7 linked regions of the Homo sapiens genome follow. The protein of the gene in region 5 interacts with the protein of the main gene of each other region in a pairwise test. Each region holds a gene or a part of one and is shown on either strand. Other genes may lie near its edges. The genes, in order: DR1, INTS12, LMNA, SDCBP, FAM9A, GLE1 and HIP1.

Region 1 (3,500 bases), on a different chromosome or scaffold from region 5:
CCTTTCTGAAGTTTTTAGGGAGGTCAGGGGAAGTGAGTTAACTTAATAATAGGACAGTACTATGCTTTTTGGCATCAGATTATTTCTAAAGAAGGTTGATGAAAACAGCTTAACATTTGAAATACTTAAAGTTGTAAATCATTCAAAATGTCTAAAAACCACAGTTTGCATGGGCATGTAGATTTGTAAAGGTGTTTTTGGCATTCTCCCAGAAGAGCAAATCCCTGAAGTTAGAAGTGAGAGCATGTATACTAAAAGGAGTCTGGTTCAACATAATGATTGAAAGACTTCAAGAACTGATGACTTAAATTGATTTACTGTTTTTTGCCACCTATGTTTCATCATTGGTTCACAATACAAAATATGCCTTTGGGGCATTAGTCAATATACCAAAACTATAAAATATAATTTTAAATACTATGACCCAAAAGGAAATTTTATGCCTTGTCTTTTCTGGATTACAGAAGGTATTTAGGGTGTGTGAATTTTTTTTTTTTTTTTTTTTTGAAACAGGGTCTTGCTCTGTCATCCAGGCTGGAGTACAGTAACGCAGTCATGGCTCGTGACATCCTCAATCTCCTGGACTTAAGCAATCCTCTCACCTCAGCCTCCTGAGTAGCTAGAACCATAGGCACGACCCATCACACTCGACTAATTTTTTTACTTTTTGTAGAGACGAGGTCTTGCCATGTTGCCCGCGGTGGTCTTGAACTCCTGGACTAAAGGGATCCTCCCACCTTGGCCTCCCAAAGTACTGGAATTACAGGCATGAACTACCATGCCTAGCCCATTTTTTTTTCCTTATAAAATTTCCTTTCTAAATACGAAAAGGGGAGAAACATTTTTATTAGTGCTTCTTGTATCTTTATAGTCTTTCAGCTACGTTTTTTTTGCCACATCATTTAAATATGTTTTTATTTTTCCTGTTAAGTTTTATTTTCAAGAGAAACCTGTTGGCTGACTATAAGTGCTGAATTTCATGACTTTTATTTCCACCAGTATTTTTTAAACTTGGCAGTTTGAGTATCTGCTAAAAATAGCTTCCTGTTGGTATATTGGACAAAAGAAAAACTTCTGTTCTTTTATTCTGTCCTACCAGAACTTAGTAGAGAATGTGTTACCAGCCTACTTTTTCTAAGTCAAATGACACAAAATGTTTTTTCTTACTAAAACCATATGTTCTTATAATGGGCTTTTTTTTCTTCCCTGCTTACAGGAAATGCTTTGGTCTTTTAAAAATTAGTCAGAATGAAAAGTGAAGGCATGTGCCTTGGTTCTTCAAGTTTTAACTGATTTGCCACCTAATATTTAGCAGATTGATAAAATATTTGTCTTGGCTGCCCAGACAGTTGTTGTACAACTATAAAATAGGTAAAATTATTAGAAAACAGCAAAACATTCCCCTCCCCCAAAGAAAAGCCCACAAAAACTTTAGGTCTACGGGTTGGGGGAAAGCTGTGTTTTATCACCCTTTCATATTTTAATATTTTCATTTCTCTAGCACTAGAAAGTTTGGGATTTGGCTCTTACATCAGTGAAGTAAAAGAAGTCTTGCAAGAGTGTAAAACAGTAGCATTAAAAAGAAGAAAGGCCAGTTCTCGTTTGGAAAACCTTGGCATTCCTGAAGAAGAGTTATTGAGACAGCAACAAGAATTATTTGCAAAAGTAAGTAATTTATTTAAATTATTTTCCTCTGAATCCTACCCTGTTTGCTAACTGAAATTGCTTCCTAAATTAACAGACATACCCAGAGGATTCCCTTTTTCTAGGTAGTTGATTATAGATTCTGGTGTTCAGAGCTGACCAATTTGACTCTGGTTTATGTGAAAGTAAATATTTGCAGCAATCTGTTCTAAAGAGAACAACTCCAAATACCTATTGAAATTTCACTTGATATTTTTTCAGACAGAATGACCATTTTAAGGCATGAAAAGTATACCTAAATATTCTTAAGATTTAAAATGATGAGCTGATGAGAAAATACTATATCAAATTTTATGATGCATGACATACCAGCAAAATCTGATTAATATCAACTGTGTAGTTAAATTAGGTCTTTAATATACACCTTTGAAGCATTTTAATCTTAAAAAATATTTTAAAGCTAGTAGAGCAAAGGGAGAAAATGTCTTCTTCCTTGCTTGTAATAATTCTAATATCTAGACTCTGAAGGATTAGAACCAAATACTAATGTTCTCTGTTTCAAAAAGAGAAGGGAGGGGAATTGGTGGCAATGCTGTGTTTTCCCTTCTAAGTTCTGGCCTCTCATTTGAAATTATAAGGCAGCTTTGGATTGAATAGAAGAGAAGCCGTAGTAACCATTAGAACTGGGAAGTATCATTTTAGGTAAACTCTTCCAGGTTAGTCCTGTAGCTGATCTCTCTGCAGCCATAACAATCAGTTTGGTTTACATCAAACTGCATTTTAGTCTTAAGTATTGTTGGTCACTAGACACCAAGTACCATTTAAACAAGATAAAAAGAAAAACTTACATTTATTGAGTTCTAACCACGTGTTAATCACATTGCCAAGTAATTTTCCTGCATTATCTCATTTAATCCTCCCAACAACCTATCATAGGCACTAAAGAGGAAAAGCCTTTGAAGCAGGCGTTAGTACATGCAATGTTATAATTCATATGAATATGAGGTACAAAAGAAGAGGTGTTGATGTTTTAAAAACATTAATGGCTATTTATTGATATTGCAGACCACCTAGAGAATGCTAAATTGAACATTTAGTGACAGAAGATTTTCTCCTGGATACTTTAAATACATAAAAACTTGGCAGAGTTTTTATGAAATATAAATTTTATTGTATTCATTTACATATTAAAAAATAGACTCAGAGGCGGAAAAACTTCCTTGAAATTGTTTGTCATTTGTTCTACAGTTACTTACTGAAGTCATTACTATTTACCAAGCATCATGCTAGGTGCTAGGCTTACAAGAGTGAACAAGGAGACAGGGTTCCTGTCATTATAGAGCTTAATCTACTGGGGAAGATTGAGTGGGAAAGATTGACTTAAATAAAACAGTAAGTTCAGAAAGTTAGGAAGTGTTGGAGTCTATATTTAAACTTAGGTATTTTGACCCAAAAGCCTGTACTGTTTCTAACATACCATGCTGATGCTCTAGCCTCCATTTTATATGCTTAAACTTATTATGGGGCTTTTAAATAGAATATGTATTATCCTTGCCAGGGCAAAATATAAAGAAATAATTGACTGCCTGCTATATCTGTCTTCACCTTTCTATCCCTATTATCTGTTTTTTTATTCCTCTTTTTTGTCTCCCTTGTTTCTTACCCTGACTTATGTATGAAGATCTCTAGTATTTCTTTACTATTGTGAGGATGACCAGCGGAGAGGTAATATTATAGCAGTTGCCTAGTACTTCTTCCCTAGAGCACTGAAGTTCTAAATATGAAAGAGTGGATAAGTAAATATATCTTTTTTATCACTTTCATTTTGTTTCATTTTTTAGACTTTAAATATTAAC
Region 2 (2,563 bases), on a different chromosome or scaffold from region 5:
TTTATTGGAAAAAGATATACCCTTAAATAATTGAAATGAGGTGATAAAAAAGGTAAAGATATAATATGAAGTATGATAAATCAATTAGGAAAATCCATTGATATGAGAAATCAATAATGAAAAAATAATTTTGAAAAAGATGAAATAATTGGGAGGGAGAGGGAGAGTCAGTTGAAATGGGGCTAGCACAGAAAATGAACACCCAGAATACGGGGAGGAAAATAGAAAACTATGTTGGGTCGTCCCTGCCGCCACATAAGGCACCTCATTCATCAGGATCAACTCTTGGGGCTTTGCTAGAAGATGAACTATTTCTTTTTCCTTAAATTCACAGATGCTTTCAATCTTCTGAAGATCTCATTGAGAACCAGTCATTCTAATCATTGTTTTCACACACTATGGAAATCATTAGAATAAAAATGTTGAAGATTGATTTAAAATGAAAGTTTCCAAGTTTTGTTATATAATATTTAGCATTTTAAGGTAAGAAACAATAGAAATTTGATTATGAAGACTTTTATTAAATTACAGTGTATTACAGATTATATCATAATAATAAGCCTTTCATCTTTAGGCTAATATGATACAAAAACCTACTTGGCCACATTACTTCTTGAGTTTCTTTTGGGCAGCTTTCTTCTTGACCATCTGTAATCGCTTCATAGCATTGAGCTGTGATTCTTGTGAAGTTGGGCCTTTAAGGGATGCTGAGGGAGAGCTGCTGGATTCTGAAGTAGTTTTGCTGGTAGTACTTCCACTAGGTCCTGATGTTCCACTATTTCCATTCCCACTTAGTTGGCTGCTGCTTCCTGGAACTAAACTACTTGGACTAGGAAGACCTACTTTGCTGACATTGTCACAACTAACTGAGCGACTAAGGCCAGTTTTACCCAAGGTTAGAGGTGGAGGTGGTTTTAAAGGTACAGTGGGCGTAGTGCTGTTATTGGAACCTATTTTGGAACCTATTCCACCTTTGGATGATGTTGCCAGACCAGTCAAACCCACAGGTTTCTGGTTAGCTGACGAAGTAGCAGGTTTCCCAGTATTGTTTTGTGTTGTTGAACTCAATTTTGCTGTTGAAGGACCAGCAGAGGAAGTTTTGGCTGCAAAAGCTGCCCATCCAGTTAAGCCACTAGTTACTGACGAGGAAACGCTGGCACTAGAAGAATTTCCTGAAATAACTGTGGATGTCTAAAAAAATAAAGTAAATAATTACATTAGAGCCAAGTTTAATCAGTACCTGTATAAACATCCCAAGTTATGAATTGGGAAATTTAAATCACACCACCAAATTAGGTTCTTATGAAGCTGATCTGAAAAACCACACAGAACAAAACTTATCTGTATCTAGTGGGTATTATCATTTGCAAAGCAGAAAATTTTTGATACCATATTCTTGTTCTAATGATTCCAAAAGAAAATATATGAAATTCCTTTTTGGGAATTGCTTTTAGATTCAATTCTAAGCTATATCTGAAAACCAGATTTAGTGCTTTAACATAGTTTTTACCCAACAAAGTATTATCGACCTTAGTTAAACATCTAATTCTTTTAGACTTTTCTCCAAATAACTAGGGATCATTTCAAAAATTTAATTCACTCTTAATAGCAAAAATGCCCATACCCAGAATATTCAGGAGAACATATCCAAGATGAAGAGATTCAGTCAATATTTATTTACTGAGTGACTGTGTGAGAGAAAGAAGACAGCTGTATAGATTCTAAACCCATTAAAAAAAAATGTCCTCCTAAATTTTGAGCAACAGTTACAGGAGTACAAAATATATGCAAAGTTAATTACTTGGAAGTGTACAATTTTTATGATGTGTTAAAAAGTTCTCATGATTTTAGTTTCACAATTTGCCCATGATTCCGGTTAAACTATCATGTAAGAGTCTCCTGCTCCTTTAATAAGGATTTTATCAATTGCCTCATTAGGCTGCACAGTGACATTTTGGGTAGGACTGATCTCATTCTCTGATATATTTCATAAGGGTATAACACTTCAACTTCTCTGATTAACTTTCCTGGCTAATCAGAAGCTCACAATGGTACCAATGCCACTATATAAATACATATTGCTCTTGTTCACACAAGAATATATTTTTTCACTTTCATATTAGGCACAAATGTACGTATTCAAATTAATTTTGAATTGAACTTCTTATTGACACCTTTTCTACCTTTATACTCTTAAGAAGATTCACAAAAGCATTACATTCACATATAGGTAAAAGATAAAATTTTACAAAATAACATCCTACTTAAAAAATGGTAGTTATTATACCTAAAATATATCCAGTTATAATTTAGAACTTTACTCTGAAATAGTTGATAAAACATTTTTAGCTCTTGAAATCAAGGTAGCCTTCAATATTGTCTGCATGCATACATTTTTAATCAATGTGAAAAGTAACAAAAATAGAGTTCTGAGATATTCGATTTATAAGAGAAGGAATCCAGATATTTGTCCACATACTCTGAAAATTGATAGGAAGTTTTCTTACAGTAACATATTAACTATCTTATGAAGTTATCCAGAGAAGAAAAACTACATAAACCA
Region 3 (3,500 bases), on a different chromosome or scaffold from region 5:
GATTGTCCCCGAAGCTGCCACCCCCACTGCCCCCCACACTGCGGTAGCTGCGAGTGACCGTGACACTGGAGGCAGAAGAGCCAGAGGAGATGGGTCCGCCCACCTGGGCTCCTGAGCCGCTGGCAGATGCCTTGTCGGCAGGCTGCCCGCAGGTCCCGCACAGCACGGTGCGCGAGCGCAGGTTGTACTCAGCGGGGTCCCCCGAGCTGCTGCAGTGGGAGCCCTGGGAAGGGAGACAAGGCTCAGGCGGGACGGCGAGTCTGGGACTGACCACTCAGGCCCAACCAGGCTCCAGGCTCCTGCAGGCTCCCAGCCGCCAGGCAGGAAGGTGTGGTTCTGTGCCCAAGGAGCCAGCGGGCAATGGGGGTTTGGGAGGCTAGGGGCCCGGAGGAGGAGAGGGAAGACATAAAAGGGGAGAAGGCTCAGGAAGACTTGGGGACAGAGAACCAGAGCAGTGACTCTGACTCTGTTCTAGCTACTCTGAGCTTAAGAGGAAAAGAAGAGAGAACGGGAGCAAGCTTGTAGGGCAGCAGGCATGCACTATTAATTGGAGTGGAGGGGCGGTCAGGAATGAGAGAGAACATTCTTGCAGGAAAAATGAGGGAAATGAGAGGATATGCATGCAACAAGAATGGGGGAGAGAGGCAGGGCGGGCATGCCCCACGTCTGTCCTCCCCTCCCTTTCCCAGAAGACAAATCCAGACCCTTGTCCACTGCTCCCACAGGAATATTCCATGGCATCAGAAAGTTCCCACTCCCTTCCTTACCAGAGTAGGGCACCCAGACACCTGGGTTCCCTGTTCAAGGTATAGGGAGGAGAGAGAAGAAAGGCCAGGCCAGCGAGTAAAGTTCCAAAACATTCTTTAATGAAAAGATTTTTGGCACGGGGAGGCTGGGGAGAGGCTGCCCCCAGGCCTGGCTGGGTGGCCCCAGTGCAGGCTCGGCCTCAGCGGCGGCTACCACTCACGTGGTGGTGATGGAGCAGGTCATCTCCATCCTCATCCTCGTCGTCCTCAACCACAGTCACTGAGCGCACCAGCTTGCGCATGGCCACTTCCTGGTGGGGACATGGAACCAGGTCCAAGGGTCAGGGCCAGGGAAGGGTTGTACAGCATGTCTACCCCAGTGACCACCTGCAACTTTTCTTGTGGCCTGCCCTTTGTCCGGCCTGCTGCTTACTCTGTCCTCTGTGGTGATGGAGCTAAGGAACTCATTTCCACCCCAGAGGGACACTGTCAAGCTCTCCGGGTAGGAGTATGGCTCTGCCTTTAACAATCCTCACTGTCTAACTTCCACCCCTTGTGCTGTTGAGGAAGCATCTTTTGGTTTGCCTACTGGGTGGAGAAGTCTGGAGCCTGCAACAGAGAGCTCTAGAAAGGGGCCCTGAATTGGCAAACTTGGGTTGGGGGCAGCTGGCTCCGATGTTGGCCATCAGGGGGAGCCTCGTCCAGCAAGCAGCCAGGCCCAGGCCTACTTACTTCCCCAGTGGAGTTGATGAGAGCCGTACGCAGGCTGTTCCCGCAGCCCCAGGTGTTCTGTGCCTTCCACACCAGGTCGGTAGGGGGGCTGTGGGTGGCCCCAGCTCCTGCAGCCCAGATCTGGAGAGGAGAAAAGGACACTTACCCCAGCGCTCCCATCGCCACCCAAGGCCTCCCCAGAGTCCCAAGCGCCCTGCCACTCACCGTCACCACCTGCCCAGCCTTCAGGGTGAACTTTGGTGGGAACCGGTAAGTCAGCAAGGGATCATCTCCATTCTGGCGCTTGATCTGCCAATTGCCCATGGACTGGTCCTGCCGGGAAGATAGGGAAGAGGAAGGTCGGGGAGGCTCACCCAGGCTCTTGGGTGTATCTTGCTCAAAGGCCCAGCCCTCTGCCTGCCTGCAATTGAGGCCTCTCCTTCCATCTACACACACCCCTGTCACTGCCCTTCCCCCGGGGATAATAGCCATGATCTGTGGACACATACGCAGCACCAGGCACACGGATACCTTATCTTTCATCTTCCTGACAACTCAAAGACTTAGGGATCAGTATTCATCCCCATTTTACAGATGAGGAAACTGATGCTCTGAGAGGTTAAATAACCTGCTCAAGGTCTCACAGCCAAAGAGTCCAGGAGCCAGGCCTGGAACCAGAGTGTGGAGGAGATATACAGGCTCACCCTGGTCCACCCTCTGAGGGCAAGGATGTTCCTCTCTCCACATGCCATCCTTCTGTCTTGCCACTCTCTCCCTGATGCAGCTGTATCCCCTTAGACCCTGAGCAGGAGCCTACCTCATTGGACTTGTTGCGCAGCCGGACAAACTTGCCCTCCTCATCCACCTCCTCCACGGCCACGCGCCCGCTAGTGCGTGCGTGCTGTGAGAAGCTGCTGCGGCTCTCAGTGGACTCCAGTTTGCGCTTTTTGGTGACGCTGCCCCCACCCTGTGTCTGGGATGAGTGAGAGGAAGCACGGCCACGGCTGCGCTGCGAGGTAGGGCTGGGGGACAGGCGTAGCCTGGGGAGAGGGAGACCAAGTGGGGGTCTAGTCAAGGCCAGTTGCCGGCCAGAGGACACTGCCAGCACCTCCCCGACGTCTCCCCAGCCCACCTCTCCTCCTCGCCCTCCAAGAGCTTGCGGTAGGCGTGGATCTCCATGTCCAGGGCCAGCTTGATGTCCAGAAGCTCCTGGTACTCGTCCAGCTGCTGCTGCATCCTTGCCCGCATCTCGGCCATCTCCCGCTCCTTTTCCGCCAGCAGCCGCCGGCTGGTGTCCCGCTCACGGGCCAGTGAGTCCTCCAGGTCTCGAAGCTTCGCCTCCTTGGCTGCCAGCTGAAGGGGGGTGGGAGGGTTTGGTGAGCTCCCAAGGGCCCTAAGTATGGGGAAGGAGGGACGTGGGTCGGTGTAGGAGACACCTGGCTACTCTCTCCAGGATCTGCAATCAGAGCTTCCCCAGAGCCCTCATCAGAGCCAGCTCTGAACATCACAAGCTCTAAACATAGTCTTGGCTGGCAACTGGGAAGTCCTTCCCCTTGTCTAACTGAAACCTCTCGTTCTGAGGCTAGACTTTTTCTCCTGTCACAAATAGCACAGCCAACTAGAAAAATACTGATGCTTTTAACACCTCACATTGCAGAGTCCTGTGGCAACTCTGAGTTAGGGAGATTAAGAACAGCCTCCATTTTCGAATGGGAAAACCAAAGCCCTGAGAAGTGAAGGTGAGGTAAGAGTGTACAGAAACAGCACACAGGCCATCTGACTCCACATCCTGCGACCCTTCTCTGTGGTTGTGGGGACACTTTTCATCCCTCTCCTCCTCAGGAACCTCCCACCCCCACCCCCACCCCCAACCCTGGGCTTCCAGCCTGCATCCGGCCCAGACTCTAGGCCCCTGGAGAGAGGGGTGAGGTGGGGTATCACCTGCTTCTGGAGCTGGCTGAGCTGGGCAGAGAGGCTGTCGATGCGGATGCGCGACTGCTGCAGCTCCTCGTGGGCAGCCCCCACCAGGTTGCTGTTCCTCTC
Region 4 (3,500 bases), on a different chromosome or scaffold from region 5:
TAGGTCACATATTTCTATCACACATCTGTTACATTGTAGAATGATAAGCAAGAACTAGGTAGCACCCCATAAATGAACAAATGCCCTTTGGCCAAGTGAACAAATCCACTGCAACTATTACCTACAGTGGGGCCAAGGGGCCTATGAAAAGTATCTTTTCTCTTTAGGACAGAGGAAAGAACACAAGAGCAATCCTGGCGGAAGGAGCAGCAGTATACTCTATTCCCTGAAGATTCTGGAGAAAGGGCAGCAAAGTCAGAGCATCCCAACTAAGCACGCAGATGTATTTTGAGTGACATACAAGTGAGCAAGGCCATCATCGATGGCCTCAGCCCCCTGGGTGGGCAGGCAGGGCGGGGGCCTCCTGCCAAGATCAGCCTCCTCCATTTACAGCAGTGCACCACACTTATAATTTTCTATGTGGAAAGGCTGGATGCACTAAGCTAGAGATGTATGACTGAAACCGAATCCAATAAGGTAATGGCTAAAACTATAAATTGGGGTAAAGACTCAACATGTCCTTCACAATTATAAATGGTTCCTCAGAGAGTAACCCTGTTTCATATCTTCAGTATGTTAAGGTGAGAGGTAATTATAAAGTAAAGGCTGCCCTAATTAGAAAGAATATTCCATCTTTTTTTACTCAGAAAATGACATATTAAATTCAAATGTGAAGGATGTTAATAACAAATCTGCAAAAACCATCTCACCAGTTAAATACTGATCATTTGGTTTAAAAATGCACACACATCCGGGAGGCAGAGGTTGCAGTGAGTCAAGATCACACCACTGCACTGCAGCCTGGCGACAGAACGAGACTCCGTCTCAAAAAAAAAAAAAAAAAGGCACACTGACATTGACTCTCATTGGAAAGTTTTTTCTTAACCTTCACATCTGCTCTATTTAATTGCCACAATTCTATTATACAAACTATAATATATGTAGGCCAGTGAAATGTATTCCAGTTAGAATATTCAGAAAAGAAACATCTTTCAAAGTAATGTGGTCAGAAGTCCCAACTATGCCTCTGCAAAATAGAACATCCCCAATTGAAAACATTTAAGTTAGTAGATTTAAAATATTCTCAACTACAGATGCACTATTATAATTAAAGCATTTCCATTTCAAATTATTTTAACATTAATCACTTATTATGTAAGAGATTTAGACAAATTCAAATAGGTATTTAAAATACTTACATTATCTATTGATTTAAGCCTGAGTCCAATTTTTCCATCTTGATCCTTACACAAAATGACTTCACGAATCCCTTGCTTAATTTCTGCTCTACGAATTCCAACATCATTACCAGTTACAGGAGCCACCATATAGTTTATACTGGAAGGTCTTGCTACCAACTGCTGACAAAACCATATACAATGTGTCAATATCTAGAAACACTCTCCTTGAAAAAAACAATGATAATTAACTGGAACTTACTCAGTTTTGGCTTTCCAAAAAGCAATCCACAAATAATTTCCTTCCGATAAAGTTTGATGTCTATGAAAATGGCACTGGCTCTACTACTAATTCTTCACTAACTTATTCCCACACATATCATCTCTAATAGATTCAATGACTCTCTGTTGCCCTTTGAATTCACTGGCATTTGTTTCACCGGTATACTGGCTTGTCTTCATCTCAAATTTATTATCTTTGAACTTAAAGGCCATATACTTTTGAAACATTTTCCAGACGGTTCATGATGTCACGATCTTTGACAATCTACTTATCCTTTCAGAATTTCCATAAAAGGGGCAAATTTCTTACCTCACTGTTACTGACAGGATTAAATGAAAAGTGCATGTTGTATGGGCACTGGCACACATAAGACAGTCAACTATTATGTCTCTTCCCCTCTAGTAACCATCTATGGATTAACAAATCATATGCACAAACCAGAATGCCCCAGAATACCTACATTAGGGACCTGTGTCATATACCATGTTTCAAGTTTCTAATTCTTTCCAGTTTTCCTAATCAAAACTGGTTTATTTTAAGTGGAACCTTTCCCCAACCAAAAAGAAAATGGAATAATATTAGGCCACTAAAAAAAGGAAATCCTGCCATTTGGACAACATGAATAAATGTAGAGAATATTATTCCAAGTGAAATAAACCAGACACAGAAAGACAAGTACTGTCTGGGTCCCACTTATATGTGGAATCTGAAAAGAGTCAAACTCACAGAAATAGAGAGTAGAAGGAAGGTTGTCAGGGGCTGGGGTTGGGCAGGGCAAAGAATGAGAAAAATGTTGGTCAAAGTGTACAAACTTTCTCAGTTATCATATGAGTACGTTCTGGAGATCTAATGTACAGCATAGTAACTATAATTAATAATACTGTACGGTATACTTGAAAGTTGCTAAGAGTACATCTTAAGTGTTCTCACCACACACCAAAAGAAATGTAACCATGTGAGATGACAGATACGTTAATAACCCTGACTGTGGTAATCATTTCACAATGTGTGTTTGTGTGTGTTTATCAATACATCAAGTTGTATTGATATATACAGTTGAATATATACAATTTATATTTGTTAATTATACCTCAATAAAGCTGGGGAGAGGAAGATCCAGATGGAACATCAAGAGAAGAAGAATAAAATATGTGAAATGAAAAATTCACTAGATATGAAGAGATAACAGAAATCTCCAGCAACAAATTAATTTAAAATAGAACAGAAGAAAAATAAAAGGCGGCGCACTGAAGAACCCTGGAGATGCAGACACAAAAATGAAGGTTATATCACCCTTCTAGGTATTTGGGCAAAGGGATCTAAGCATCCATGTAGTGAACAAAGGAAGTTCTAAATTTTAACTACAGCCTCATGATCAGTTACTAAAATAAGAATCAGAGCAGCTATGACTCTGTTCTTCTTTGTATTTGTATATTTTCTGTAAATACAGCAATTAATCTTTCTGTTCCTCTATACCTCTTTTTACCTTTATGTATGAATTGTTGGTAGTGGTTAACTTTACACTTTTGCCTTTAAATTAAAAATATTCTGTTGGGAATGTGAATACTTAGAAGGGTAATTAGTATCATATAGTAATCAATACCATGATGACTGCCCAGAGATGGCCACATTAACTGGTATCATCCCTTTCTAGAGAAAGGGTGAGAGCAACTTCATTTATATTGAAGGGTACATGGCTTCATTTTGTACACCCCTGAGTTAAAAATGATTTTTATATTTTTAAAGATTGTAAATAAACAAATAACAATAAGAATATGTGATAAAGATCATAAGTGACCATGAAAGCCTAAGGTATTTATTATGGAGCCCTTTATAAAGTTTGAACTTTGATTTTATGAAGAAATTCATCTTTCAAGGAGAAACTATAAAGTTGTTGTTGTTGTCACATGAAATTCAAATGTTTGTACAAGTGTGTGGATATACTGAGTAGTCAAAGGAGTAGGTGGTAACAGATATTAAACTACTGTTTGTCAGCTCCAAATCCACCCTTCTAGACTCTACTTGGTGATGCTGGGCCT
Region 5 (4,064 bases):
ATTAAAGCTTTAAAGCAGAGCTATGCATGGAATCACTGGGCTCCGGACCGTTTTACCGAGGCATTTTTGGAAGCCCTTCCGGTTCAAGTCCTAGTAAACAACGCTCACAAGTCAGACCCCTTGGATGTCAGGACCGCATCCATGGAGAAGAGCTGCTCTGCGAGCATCTGTAACCCTGCTATGAGGGGGAGCCTCCCACGGGAAGCCTAAGGCCCTCGATCCTGCTTTGAAAACCTGGGGCCTCTTGGCACATGCACAATGGACTCCAAAGCCACGAAGGGGCCAGGGGTCTCGGGCTGCCCATGTGCCTCCCGCGCAAAGAGCAGACAGACCGTCCTCTTGGGCGTGCACCTTCTTTTCTGGCCCCTTGGGCTGTGTTTACCTGTGTGCTTCTTCGCCGGGGCGGCCCTAACTTGAGCTTCCAACTGAGCTTTGGCAGCCTTCCTGCTGCGCTTCCTGCCCACGGGCTCCATGGTTGGCTGTCCTGGGAAGTTAGAGGCGATCCCTGAACCTGGTTGAGTGCAAAGTCAAACTAAGTAAGCTAAGGAAACAGGATATGTGAAAGGAGAGCCAACGGGATCTCGGATTCAAGAAAGGGTGGGGCTGGCCCACCCCGTGTATCCTGTGGGAGCAGGAGGGGATGGAGAAGATGCCAGTGTCCCCTCCTATCCTTCCTGGCCCGTCCAGCCCCTCCCTGGGGCTGGCTGCAGAACTCACAGCTGCCTCGCACACCTGAATGGCCCCTGCAGGATCCTTGCGGTGTCCCTGGGACAGAGCTCAGCCCTGCCCCTGTGTGCCCCAGAGACCTGCGTGGCCCGGAGGACCACGGGTGCCACAGGACCTCCCCAGCCATCTCTGGGAGAATGTCAGGGGCTGCACTGCCACTTGCCTGCCTGGATGCCCAGGTGACCCCTCGTGACCCCAGGTGTCCTGTCCTGACCGGCGGCCGGGCTGGAGGGACCCACTCGAACTGTCCCCCACAACACCCCTGCTTGTCGCCTCCCCACACACTCCGCCCCTCCTCCTCCCCTTCCCCCATCCCCTCACCCCACGAACCCCACACCCCTCCCCTCCCCTGCCCCCATCCCTGGCCCCACACCCGGCCCCTGCCTATCTGCCACTCCCCCGACCCTCCCCCCTCTGCCACCACCCCTCCCTTGCTCCCCTCTCCACCACCTCCATTCCCCCAAGCCCCCCTCCCCTGCCCCACCCCTCCCCACTGCACACATCCACAAGTCCCCGGGACAATCCCGGGCCCTGGGGATCACTCAGGTGTCTCCAGCTCCCTCCCTGCCCTGGCCCATCCCAGCCCACCCTCAGGGCCTCGCCCTGACCCAGGCCCCAGGCAACGATGCCAGGGCCATTTCCTGCTTTGAAAACCTGGGGCCTCTTAGCACGTGCATGGTGGACTCCAAAGCCACAAAGGGGCCAGGGGTCTCGGGCTGCCCATGTGCCCCCCGCGCAGAGAGCAAACAGACCATCTCCTTGGGCGTGCACCTTCTTTCGTGGCCCCCTGGGCGGCCGTAACTTGAGCTTCCAACTGAGCTTTGGCAGCCTTCCTGCTGCGCTTCCTGCCCACGGGCTCCATGGTTGGCTGTCCTGGGAAGTTAGAGGCGATCCCTGAACCTGGTTGAGTGCAAAGTCAAACTAAGTAAGCTAAGGAAACAGGATATGTGAAAGGAGAGCCAACGGGATCTCGGATTCAAGAAAGGGTGGGGCTGGCCCACCCCGTGTATCCTGTGGGAGCAGGAGGGGTCGGAGAAGATGCCAGTGTCCCCTCCTATCCTTCGTGGCCCGTCCAGCCCGTCCCTGGGGCTGGCTGCAGAACTCACAGCTGCCTCGCACACCTGAATGGCCCCTGCAGGATCCTTGCGGTGTCCCTGGGACAGAGTTCAGCCCTGCCCCTGTGTGCCCCAGAGACCTGCGTGGCCCGGAGGACCACGGGTGTCACAGGACCTCCCCAGCCATCTCTGGGGGAATGTCAGGGGCTGCACTGCCACTTGCCTGCCTGGATGCCCAGGTGACCCCTCGTGACCCCAAGTGTCCTGTCCTGACGGGCGGCCGGGCTGGAGGGACCCACTCGAACTGTCCCCCACAACACCCCTGCTTGTCGCCTCCCCACACACTCCGCCCCTCCTCCTCCCCTTCCCCCATCCCCTCACCCCACGAACCCCACACCCCTCCCCTCCCCTGCCCCCATCCCTGGCCCCACACCCGGCCCCTGCCTGTCTGCCACTTCCCCGACCCTCCACCCTCTGCCACCACCCCTCCCTTGCTCCCCTCTCCACCCCCTCCATTCCCCCAAGCCCCCCTCCCCTGCCCCACCCCTACCCACTGCACACATGCACAAGTCCCGGGGACACTCCTGGGCCCTGGGGATCACTCAGGTGTCTCCAGCTCCCTCCCTGCCCTGGCCCATCCCAGCCCACCCTCAGGGCCTCGCCCTGACCCAGGCCCCAGGCAACGATGCCAGGGCCATTTCCTGCTTTGAAAACCTGGGGCCTCTTAGCACGTGCATGGTGGACTCCAAAGCCAAGAAGGGGCCAGGGGTCTCGGGCTGCCCGTGTGCAGGTCAGCCGGCCGCTCAGCGCTTCACACCCTGGTTGCGAGAGGGCAGCATGCTCGACTTCCTGCCTCCCTACCGCGAGCGCTTCACCTGCGCTTCACACCCTGGTTGCGAGAGGGCCGCATGCTCGACTTCCTGCCTCCCCACCGCGAGCGCTTCACCTGAGGGACCCCTGATGCCGCTTCCTCACAGAACCTGCAGGCACTGGCACCACGACGCTCTCTTAGAAAAATGGGTCCTCAGTTCTCGCGAGAGCAGCTGCCCTGGCTATCCACGCTCCTCTCTGATTGGTCAGCTAAGTGCGCATGCGCATGCGGGTGAAGGACCTTGGGGGCCACGACCCCTGCTGACACGCCTTCCCTCTTTCCGTAAGGGACCACCCATATTTGCTGTGGACTGGGGTGGGTGGTGGTTCTTTGGGGCCTCTGTCCCCAGAAGTTTTCAGCGCCTCCTCCTGGGGAGGGATGCAAGGACTCGGGATGGAAGCCAAGTGGACGGGGCCTAGGACCTCGCCCCCGAGCTCCTTCCAGCCACCCCTGCCCCTTTGGCTAGAATGGCCTTCGCCTTGCAGGTGGAGCCCAGGCTCCCTCCCATGCCCTGTGTGTTTCCACCATGTCCAGCTGCACCCTTTTTATCAATGGATTGTGCTTTTATGTTTTTTGCTTGCTTGTTTGTTTGTTTTGGAGACGGAGTCTCTCTCTGTCGCCCAGGCTGGAGTGCAGTGGCAAGATCTTGGCTCACTGCAACCTCCACCTCTCGGGTTCAAGCGATTCTCCCACCTCAGCCTCCCAAGGAGCTGGGATTACAGGTGCGTGCCACCATTCTCGGCTAATTTTTGTATTTTTAGTAGAGACGGGGTTTCGTCATGTTGGCCAGGCTGGTCTCGAAGTCCTGACATCAAAGTGATCCACCTGCCTCAGCCTCCCAAAGTGCTGGGATTACAGGCATGAGCCACTGAGCCCATACCCAAAGTCGTGTCTTTAAAGGCATCAACTGTATGATGTATAGTTGTTTCCAAGAAATGATGACTAAAAGGTACTGATTGAGAAACTTTTGTCATTTCTTTCTTCAAAAAAAGTCAACTAGTTTCCTGCTAGTTCTTGCCACTTAAGTTAGCCATAGAAATCCCAGGAGTGACCATCAGGTTGTCAAAGGCCTTTCTTCTTGTTGCTGTAAGGTTGACCTGCTGATAGTAACAGATACACCCCACTCTCGGTTATTTCAGGATCAAGTAGATCCATTGGCCATGGAGTGATGGTCTTTTCAAGTCAGGCTATTTTGAGAGGTAATAAAATATTCGTGTACTTTAATTTATTTCCTTTTGTACTTGCTTGTTTTAAAATACAGTTCTGCACATAAATATTTTTGACAAGATGAACAATATAGATCTATTTTGTCACATTACAAAACAAACAAATTATTAAGATAAGTCAACAATGACTGTAAGTAGAACATTGTATTTCGTTATTAATTTTCATTAGATTTCCAAAACATTTTT
Region 6 (3,500 bases), on a different chromosome or scaffold from region 5:
GGTTTTGCCATGTTGGCCAGGCTGGTAAGACGTGAGCCACCGCGCCTGGCCAAAAAAATTTGTTTTAGACATGGGGGTCTCACTATGTTGCCCAGGCTGGTCTTGAACTCCTGGACTTAAACAATCCTCCCACCTCAGCCTCCCAAAGTGTTGGGACTGCAGGCATGAGCCACTAAGCACGGCCTATTGTGTCTTTCAAAGATTTTAATACACTTTCACATCTCTTGCTAGATAAAATAGGGTCAGTTATTAGTACATAATTCCAAAAAAGGAAATGACAGAAAAAGAAGTAATATTCCCAAGGTGTAGGTCAAGAAGACCAAAAGGAATAAATGCATACCGCTCTATACCTGGACTTGTATACTATCATGATTTACATAGCTCAAGGCAGAGGAAATTGATCATATTGAACCAATATATCAGCAATGGGTTTTTCAAAAAACCAAGCTTTATTATTAATTTTTTTTGGCACCTTAATTAACAATTCATAGAATGGGTCACTTCAGGCCACTCAAGAGTACCAGTGAACACTCCCCCACAAACACACCCTGCCACAAGACATTTAGCACAGAGGAACAGATCCATGGCCACTGCCTCTGCAGTATCAAAGAGAATTAGTCTTTCCACAAAACAAATTTTAACAGCCAATCTCTGGATTTCTGTAGTGGCTTTAGTCAGGCATATTTATCATCATATTAGCAGTGTTCAGTTCCTGCCCAACATCTTTATTTAATCCCAATTCAATGCTTATGGATGCTCAGCTCATGTTTAATGTTGCAAGCCCCATCTTAGCCCATCTTAATTCAAACAGAAAAGAAACAAAACAAAACAAAAACAAAAAAGGTACCTGCCTGGTTCATGGATCCCTAGCCATCCAGGGACCAAATTCCAAATTAGGATGACAAAGAGTTTCCCTTAGTTCAAAATGACATGTGTTTCCAGTCCTAATCCCAGATGTTAATCTAGCCATAGTGTCACCTGAGCCTTAGTCCATGTGTATATCACATACTTCCTCTAGCTTTAGAATGACTTCACAAGCTGAGAAAGGCAAAACAACCATAACCCAGACTTGCATGTAAGTATCTGGCCTCAACTATTAAATAATACTTAAAAGGGAACCTTATGAGCCTTAGCTCTTTCTGGAAATTCATCTGAACAGGGGTGAGGGTGGGTAGGTGGGTGCAAATGGTGGGCTCCCTCCAGCTCAGAGTGCATTTGTTAAGGTATTGCCAACTTTCTGAAAGACACTAGAGACAAGGGAGGAGACCAAGTGCTAAAGACCTTTTATCACTTTTGCAAAAAACAAGAAAGGCCAACTCCATTTATTTTATCACGTGGATCTCTTAAGGAACTACCAAATCTACTAAGGGACCTCCAAGAATTTTGTGACCCATGAAAATCTCCTCTCCTAGTCACAAGGCATAAATACATAAAAATACATAATGGCAAATTTCTGAATCTGACATGACTTCTCCCAAATACAGCTGTCTTCAGTTCCTTTATTATTGCCTCTTTGCAGCAGCGGTGATGGTGGGTGATGGAGTGACATCAGGAGCGCCAGAAGGAGGAAGTCAGAAAGCCCTTGGGGACAGGAATGTCCTTGTGTTGCAAACATTTCTGGTCAGGGAAAGATGAAGAAAACAGAATGAGTTTCTGATAACAGTGTTCCCAACACTTAATGGTTAAAAGAAGCTTTGAGGAACACCATATTTCAGCCCTATGGAACAGTGAACAAAAAGGAAAAAGCCAGTAAGACTGATGGTTCTGTATAAGATGTCCACTTCTGCATGATCTGCTCCAGACAACAAATGAAATGCTCTTATTATTCCTGTCCCACTCTTGTCTCCCTACAGGCTAACCTCATCTTTCACAATCACTATTTTCACAATCGAGCTTTGAGAAGCTGAAAAGTCAGCAGGCTATCTTGGCAAACCCACTATAGTGTTCTAAATTCTTTGTCAAAATTAACCTTTTACAATCTCTTGGCACTTGGAAGTAGGGGAAGAGTCCAACTGAAAGTGCAGTTTGATCTCATGGAGAAAAGTGATGACACTTACCAATTCCCCAGACCTGAGACTAAGAAAATAACCTTGGCCAACATGCAAAAAAAATATATATTAATGAGAGGAGATACACTAAATATATTTTACTCATCTCAGCATAGCTTTCTCACAGGCAGTATAGAGAATGATACATATAAAGAAGAGGAAATGGCAGCCCTTACTCCAAAGGTTAAGAGGGAATTAGGAACAAAAAGAAGGGTTTGGAAGAACTAAGGAAGAGAGTGCAATCAGAGCATCGGAAGGTCCAAGACTTGTCAGACATAGGTGCATTCCAGCCCAACAACAGTGTGGGGCATGTTGGTCTAAGGGCATCTTACCTCCAAGAACTGCTTGAGGCGTATGAAGGAGCCCATCTGTCCTGAGCTTGTGATAGCTTCAATTCTACAGGGAGAGAAAGACACATGAATCACACCTATGATATACACCTATCTTTTGGAAACGGTGTCTCACTCTGTCACCTAGGCTGGAGTGCAGCGCGGTGGTGCGATCATAGCTCACCGAGGCCTTGAACTCTTGGGCTCAAGCGATCCTCCTGTCTCAGCTTCCCTAGTAGCTGGGACTATAGATGCATGCCATCATGCCTGGCTAATTTTTTTTTTGTAGAGATGGGGTCTTGCTATATTGCCCAGGCTGGTTTTGAACACCTGGGCTCAAGTGATCCTCCTCCTGTGGCCTCCCAAAGAGCTGCAATTATAGGCATAATTATAGGCATAAGCCACTGTGCTCAGCCCCTAATTTGTGTTTTTGTTTGGGCAATGATATTTAAGACAGACTCTCATTAAGGTTCAAAAGCATTTATTCAAATATCAACGAGAGGGACTGGAGTAGGAAAGATGTCATACTTAGTACAGGTGTTTTTAACTTGAATCAAAACCAGCAGGTAATAGCACCCTTGGGTATCTGAGGCCTGGTTATGAGTTACTTAATCCCCTGCTGTCTGCTCAACAAGCCTGATACCTGGGAAAGTAGTCCTCTTTGATGAGAATTAGCATCTTCCAGAACTGAACCTGGTATTGCTTCATGAGGGCATTCCCACACACCTAGAGGGAAAGACAGGCACTGTCAGAGCAGAAAATGAAAATTCACACTCACAGGACAGATTCATAAAGCACAATCAGCCCTTCATCTTTCACACCTATCAAAAATTTCAACCACAATGCCACTGAACTTGCTAACAAGGGAATAAATGGAAACACCCAACTTTCTTCTAAAGCATTTCTCTTTATATGGCAATATCTCCATTTAACCAATCAGGTCTTAATGAACTACTCTTCTTTTCCTCTAATGAATGGACGCCTTCCTAAAGGTATGGTATACCTCCCAAACTTAGTAAGGAGAGTATACAGAATACCACTTGTGTTCTCAAATGATACAGGATCATTGTTCATGTATGGTGACTTCAGGAGCTTTTTATTTTTTTTTGAAATAGGGTCTCAC
Region 7 (3,500 bases), on a different chromosome or scaffold from region 5:
ACAAAGGCTTTCCAAGGATGAGGCTGGTGGAGAGTTTGAGGAAAGGAAAACACATGGGTGGCAGAGAGAGAGGGATGAGCGTTTTTTTTTGTTTGTTTGTTTTGTTTGTTTGTTTTTTGAGACGGCAGTAATCCCAGGACTTTGGGAGGCTGAGGGGGGTGTGGATCACCAAGTCAGGAGTTCGAGACCAGCCTGGCCAATATGGTGAAACCCCATCTCTACTAAAAATACAAAAGTTAGCCAGGTGTGATGGCGTGTGCCCGTAGTCCCAGCTGCTTGGGAGGCTGAGGCACAAGAATCTCTTGAACCTTGGAGGTGGAGGTTGCAGTGAGCTGAGACTGCACCACTGCACTCCAGCCTGGGCAACAACAGCGAGACTCCGTCTCAAAAATAAATAAATAAATAAATAAATAAATAAATAATAAAAAATCCTTCCTTGACATTCCACATTTTCAGTACACTCTGGGGTCTTGCCTCCTCCTCCCACACCCTGCACTTTTTTGGGGGGGTGTAACTTACATACAGTAGAGTTTACAGATCTCTTGTTGATCGCTTGGGACGTTTTTACATTTTTATATTCTTTGTCACTGTCACCCAGATCAGAGTCCCTCTGTTTTTCTTCTCTTTCAGACTCAAGAACAGCTGGAAGTTCTAGAGAGCTTGAAGCAGGAACTTGCCACAAGCCAACGGGAGCTTCAGGTTCTGCAAGGCAGCCTGGAAACTTCTGCCCAGGTAAATACCTCCTTTTTTTTTTTGGAGATAGAGTCTTCTTCTGTCACTCAGGTTGGAATGCAGTGGTGCGATCGCAGCTCACTGCAGCCTCCACCTCCCTGGGCTCAGGTGATCCTCCCCACTTAGCCCCCCGAGTAACTGGGACTACAGGCACACACCCCTACACCTGGCTAGTTTTTGTATTTTCTTTGGTAGAGACGGGGTTTCACTATGTTGCCCAGGCTGGTCTCGAACTCCAGGGCTCAAGTGATCCTCCCACCTCAGCCTCCTAAAGTGCTGGGATTACAGACATGAGCCTTCATGCCCGGCCTCCTTTCTTGCCCCACCCCTGGCTTTGGCGTTGCTGTCATCCACCATCCTTGGCCTGGCCAAGTCAGCCCCCACTGCAATCAGTGTGTCCCCGGGAGGGAATCAGAGTGGCAGGTTAAAGAGCCATCACCTTCCCAGTCCTTGCAACCCGGTGGTGGGTTGGACCTCTGGGAAGTAGGGACTGTTTAACTCAACCAGCGTCTCCCTCTTTCCTTGTGGTCACCTTTGCAGTCAGAAGCAAACTGGGCAGCCGAGTTCGCCGAGCTAGAGAAGGAGCGGGACAGCCTGGTGAGTGGCGCAGCTCATAGGGAGGAGGAATTATCTGCTCTTCGGAAAGAACTGCAGGACACTCAGCTCAAACTGGCCAGCACAGAGGCAAGTCACGGACATGGACACGAGCGAGCACCTGTGAATTCCCACCGAGGGCCTCTGCGCATGCACGGAGGCTGGGAGGACCCCGGGGCTGCTGAGAAGGGGTTTGGGGCCTTGGCCTGATTGTGCAGACATTCTGTAGGTGTAATGCCAGCAGGCCCTGCATTGCCTGCAGAGTCCATGAGGGAAAGCAAACTGCTGTCTTTTTTGTATGAGAAGAGAAGTTTGGCATCTCCTCCCAGCCATGAGAAGCGGGCGCAGTGATCCATCCCCACAGCCTCTGTGGGCAGCCGCACATCGTGGGCAGCCGCACATCCTGTGCACACAGTTAAAGCGCCTTTCTCTGTCTCAGGCTTACTGGCTTGGACCTCATTGGCCATGACTTGAGCTAAGATGCTAAGAGCCCCAGCCAGGTCATCCTGCTCAGGTTCATTATGGAGTCTAGGGCAGACTCTCACCTCCCTGGACCATTTTTAGGAATCTATGTGCCAGCTTGCCAAAGACCAACGAAAAATGCTTCTGGTGGGGTCCAGGAAGGCTGCGGAGCAGGTGATACAAGACGCCCTGAACCAGCTTGAAGAACCTCCTCTCATCAGCTGCGCTGGGTCTGCAGGTACACTTGCAATTGCCCAGCTGGCAGGGGCCAGGTCCTTACAGCCTGAGACTCTGTTGATGTTGAATCTCATGTGAGACTTAGCTCAGGGGCTCTCAGCCCAGCAGCATGTCAGCATTACCTTAGGGGCGCCCAGGCCCCATCCTAGATCAGTTACATGTGGAAACTCTGTGCATTAGTGCCTATACACTAGTATTTTAGTATTTTCTTCCCCCCCCCCGCCCCCCCGCTTTTTGAGATAGGGTCTTACTCTGTTGCTCAGGCTAGAGTGCAGTGCCGTGGCTCACTGCAACCTCCGCTTCCTGGGCTCACACAATCCTCCCCACTCATTCTCCCAAGTAGCTGGGACTACAGGCACGCAACACCACGCCCAGCTAATTTTTGGTTTCGGTTTGTTGCTCAGACTGGTCTTGAAGACCTGGGCTCAGGCTATCCACCCACCTTGGCCTCCCAAAGTGCTGGGATTACAGGCATGAGCCACCATGCCTGGCCTTGGCTAATTTTTTAATTTTTGGTAGAGACGAGGTCTCACTCTATTGCCCAGGATGGTCCCAAACTTCTGAACTCCCACCTTGGCCTCTCAAAGTGCTGGAATTACAGGCATGAGACACCACGCCAGGCCCAGCAGTAGTATTTTCTAAAGCCCCCAGGTGTGATAGCTACTGCTTTAGACAGTGGGTCACACTGATAAAACACCCACCAGGAGCAGACAATTCTGTTTCTCTAAGGAAAAAACTATGGTCTGAATCAAGAGGTGATTACTCATGAACTTCACGTCTAGGCAGGAAGCTTACCCACTAGGTAAGCTCCTCCATTCAGTGCTTAATTAACGAGGATGAAGCCAGCTATGAGAACTTGCTCTGACCTTGCCCTGTGTTCCCTCTCACAGATCACCTCCTCTCCACGGTCACATCCATTTCCAGCTGCATCGAGCAACTGGAGAAAAGCTGGAGCCAGTATCTGGCCTGCCCAGAAGGTAAGAATGGCCAAGGACAGTCTCTGTCGGCTAGTGATGGCCAGACAGGGTTCAGAAGCACCTGAATGCGGGGATAGTGACAGGTCCCTCTGCATCAAGAAAGGCATGTAGGCAACTCATACAAGAAAGGCATGTAGGCAACTCATAAAACGGGAGGAGAGGGTATGAAAGTGTCACCATCAACCAGACCTGAGAAACTTCTCTTTCCAATCCTGGCAGACATCAGTGGACTTCTCCATTCCATAACCCTGCTGGCCCACTTGACCAGCGACGCCATTGCTCATGGTGCCACCACCTGCCTCAGAGCCCCACCTGAGCCTGCCGACTGTGAGTACCGGGGCATGAGGGGCTGTTCATGGACCAGGGGAGCAGGGGGCCTTTAAAAGTCTCTGTTGGGCCGGGCGCAGTGGCTCATGCCTGTAACTCCAGCACTTTGGGAGGCTGAGGCGGGCAGATCACTTGAGGTCGGGAGTTCAAGAACAGCCTGGCCAACATGGC

The links.
Region 1: the proteins of FAM9A (region 5) and DR1 interact in binary tests that used the Homo sapiens proteins (3 or more experiments, as listed by UniProt).
Region 2: the proteins of FAM9A (region 5) and INTS12 interact in binary tests that used the Homo sapiens proteins (3 or more experiments, as listed by UniProt).
Region 3: the proteins of FAM9A (region 5) and LMNA interact in binary tests that used the Homo sapiens proteins (3 or more experiments, as listed by UniProt).
Region 4: the proteins of FAM9A (region 5) and SDCBP interact in binary tests that used the Homo sapiens proteins (3 or more experiments, as listed by UniProt).
Region 6: the proteins of FAM9A (region 5) and GLE1 interact in binary tests that used the Homo sapiens proteins (3 or more experiments, as listed by UniProt).
Region 7: the proteins of FAM9A (region 5) and HIP1 interact in binary tests that used the Homo sapiens proteins (3 or more experiments, as listed by UniProt).

Annotation. Positions count from the first base shown.
Region 1 is NC_000001.11:93,352,407-93,355,906, forward strand, and holds part of DR1 (protein Dr1), read left to right. Parts: intron 1-1,501; coding exon 1,502-1,665; intron 1,666-3,500. UniProt on the Homo sapiens protein: The association of the DR1/DRAP1 heterodimer with TBP results in a functional repression of both activated and basal transcription of class II genes.
Region 2 is NC_000004.12:105,682,127-105,684,689, forward strand, and holds the end of INTS12 (integrator complex subunit 12), read right to left. Parts: intron 1,192-2,563; coding exon 607-1,191; 3' UTR 501-606; downstream 1-500. UniProt on the Homo sapiens protein: Component of the integrator complex, a multiprotein complex that terminates RNA polymerase II (Pol II) transcription in the promoter-proximal region of genes.
Region 3 is NC_000001.11:156,135,211-156,138,710, reverse strand, and holds part of LMNA (lamin), read right to left. Parts: coding exon 3,399-3,500; intron 2,851-3,398; coding exon of another isoform or gene 2,811-2,850; coding exon 2,590-2,810; intron 2,498-2,589; coding exon 2,275-2,497; intron 1,791-2,274; coding exon 1,683-1,790; intron 1,599-1,682; coding exon 1,479-1,598; intron 1,058-1,478; coding exon 968-1,057; coding exon of another isoform or gene 947-967; exon of another isoform or gene 845-946; intron 224-844; coding exon 1-223.
Region 4 is NC_000008.11:58,573,761-58,577,260, reverse strand, and holds part of SDCBP (syntenin-1), read right to left. Parts: intron 1,362-3,500; coding exon 1,200-1,361; intron 1-1,199. UniProt on the Homo sapiens protein: Multifunctional adapter protein involved in diverse array of functions including trafficking of transmembrane proteins, neuro and immunomodulation, exosome biogenesis, and tumorigenesis.
Region 5 is NC_000023.11:8,798,584-8,802,647, forward strand, and holds the start of FAM9A (protein FAM9A), read right to left. Parts: upstream 2,801-4,064; 5' UTR 2,728-2,800; exon of another isoform or gene 2,657-2,727; intron 1,627-2,656; 5' UTR 1,589-1,626; coding exon 1,498-1,588; intron 512-1,497; coding exon 383-511; intron 1-382.
Region 6 is NC_000009.12:128,539,219-128,542,718, reverse strand, and holds the end of GLE1 (mRNA export factor GLE1), read right to left. Parts: intron 3,104-3,500; coding exon 3,021-3,103; coding exon of another isoform or gene 3,005-3,020; exon of another isoform or gene 2,842-3,004; intron 2,445-2,841; coding exon 2,381-2,444; intron 1,618-2,380; coding exon 1,549-1,617; 3' UTR 431-1,548; downstream 1-430. UniProt on the Homo sapiens protein: Required for the export of mRNAs containing poly(A) tails from the nucleus into the cytoplasm. May be involved in the terminal step of the mRNA transport through the nuclear pore complex (NPC).
Region 7 is NC_000007.14:75,553,942-75,557,441, reverse strand, and holds part of HIP1 (huntingtin-interacting protein 1), read left to right. Parts: intron 1-630; coding exon 631-732; intron 733-1,272; coding exon 1,273-1,416; intron 1,417-1,890; coding exon 1,891-2,026; intron 2,027-2,915; coding exon 2,916-3,002; intron 3,003-3,221; coding exon 3,222-3,329; intron 3,330-3,500. UniProt on the Homo sapiens protein: Plays a role in clathrin-mediated endocytosis and trafficking. Involved in regulating AMPA receptor trafficking in the central nervous system in an NMDA-dependent manner. Regulates presynaptic nerve terminal activity.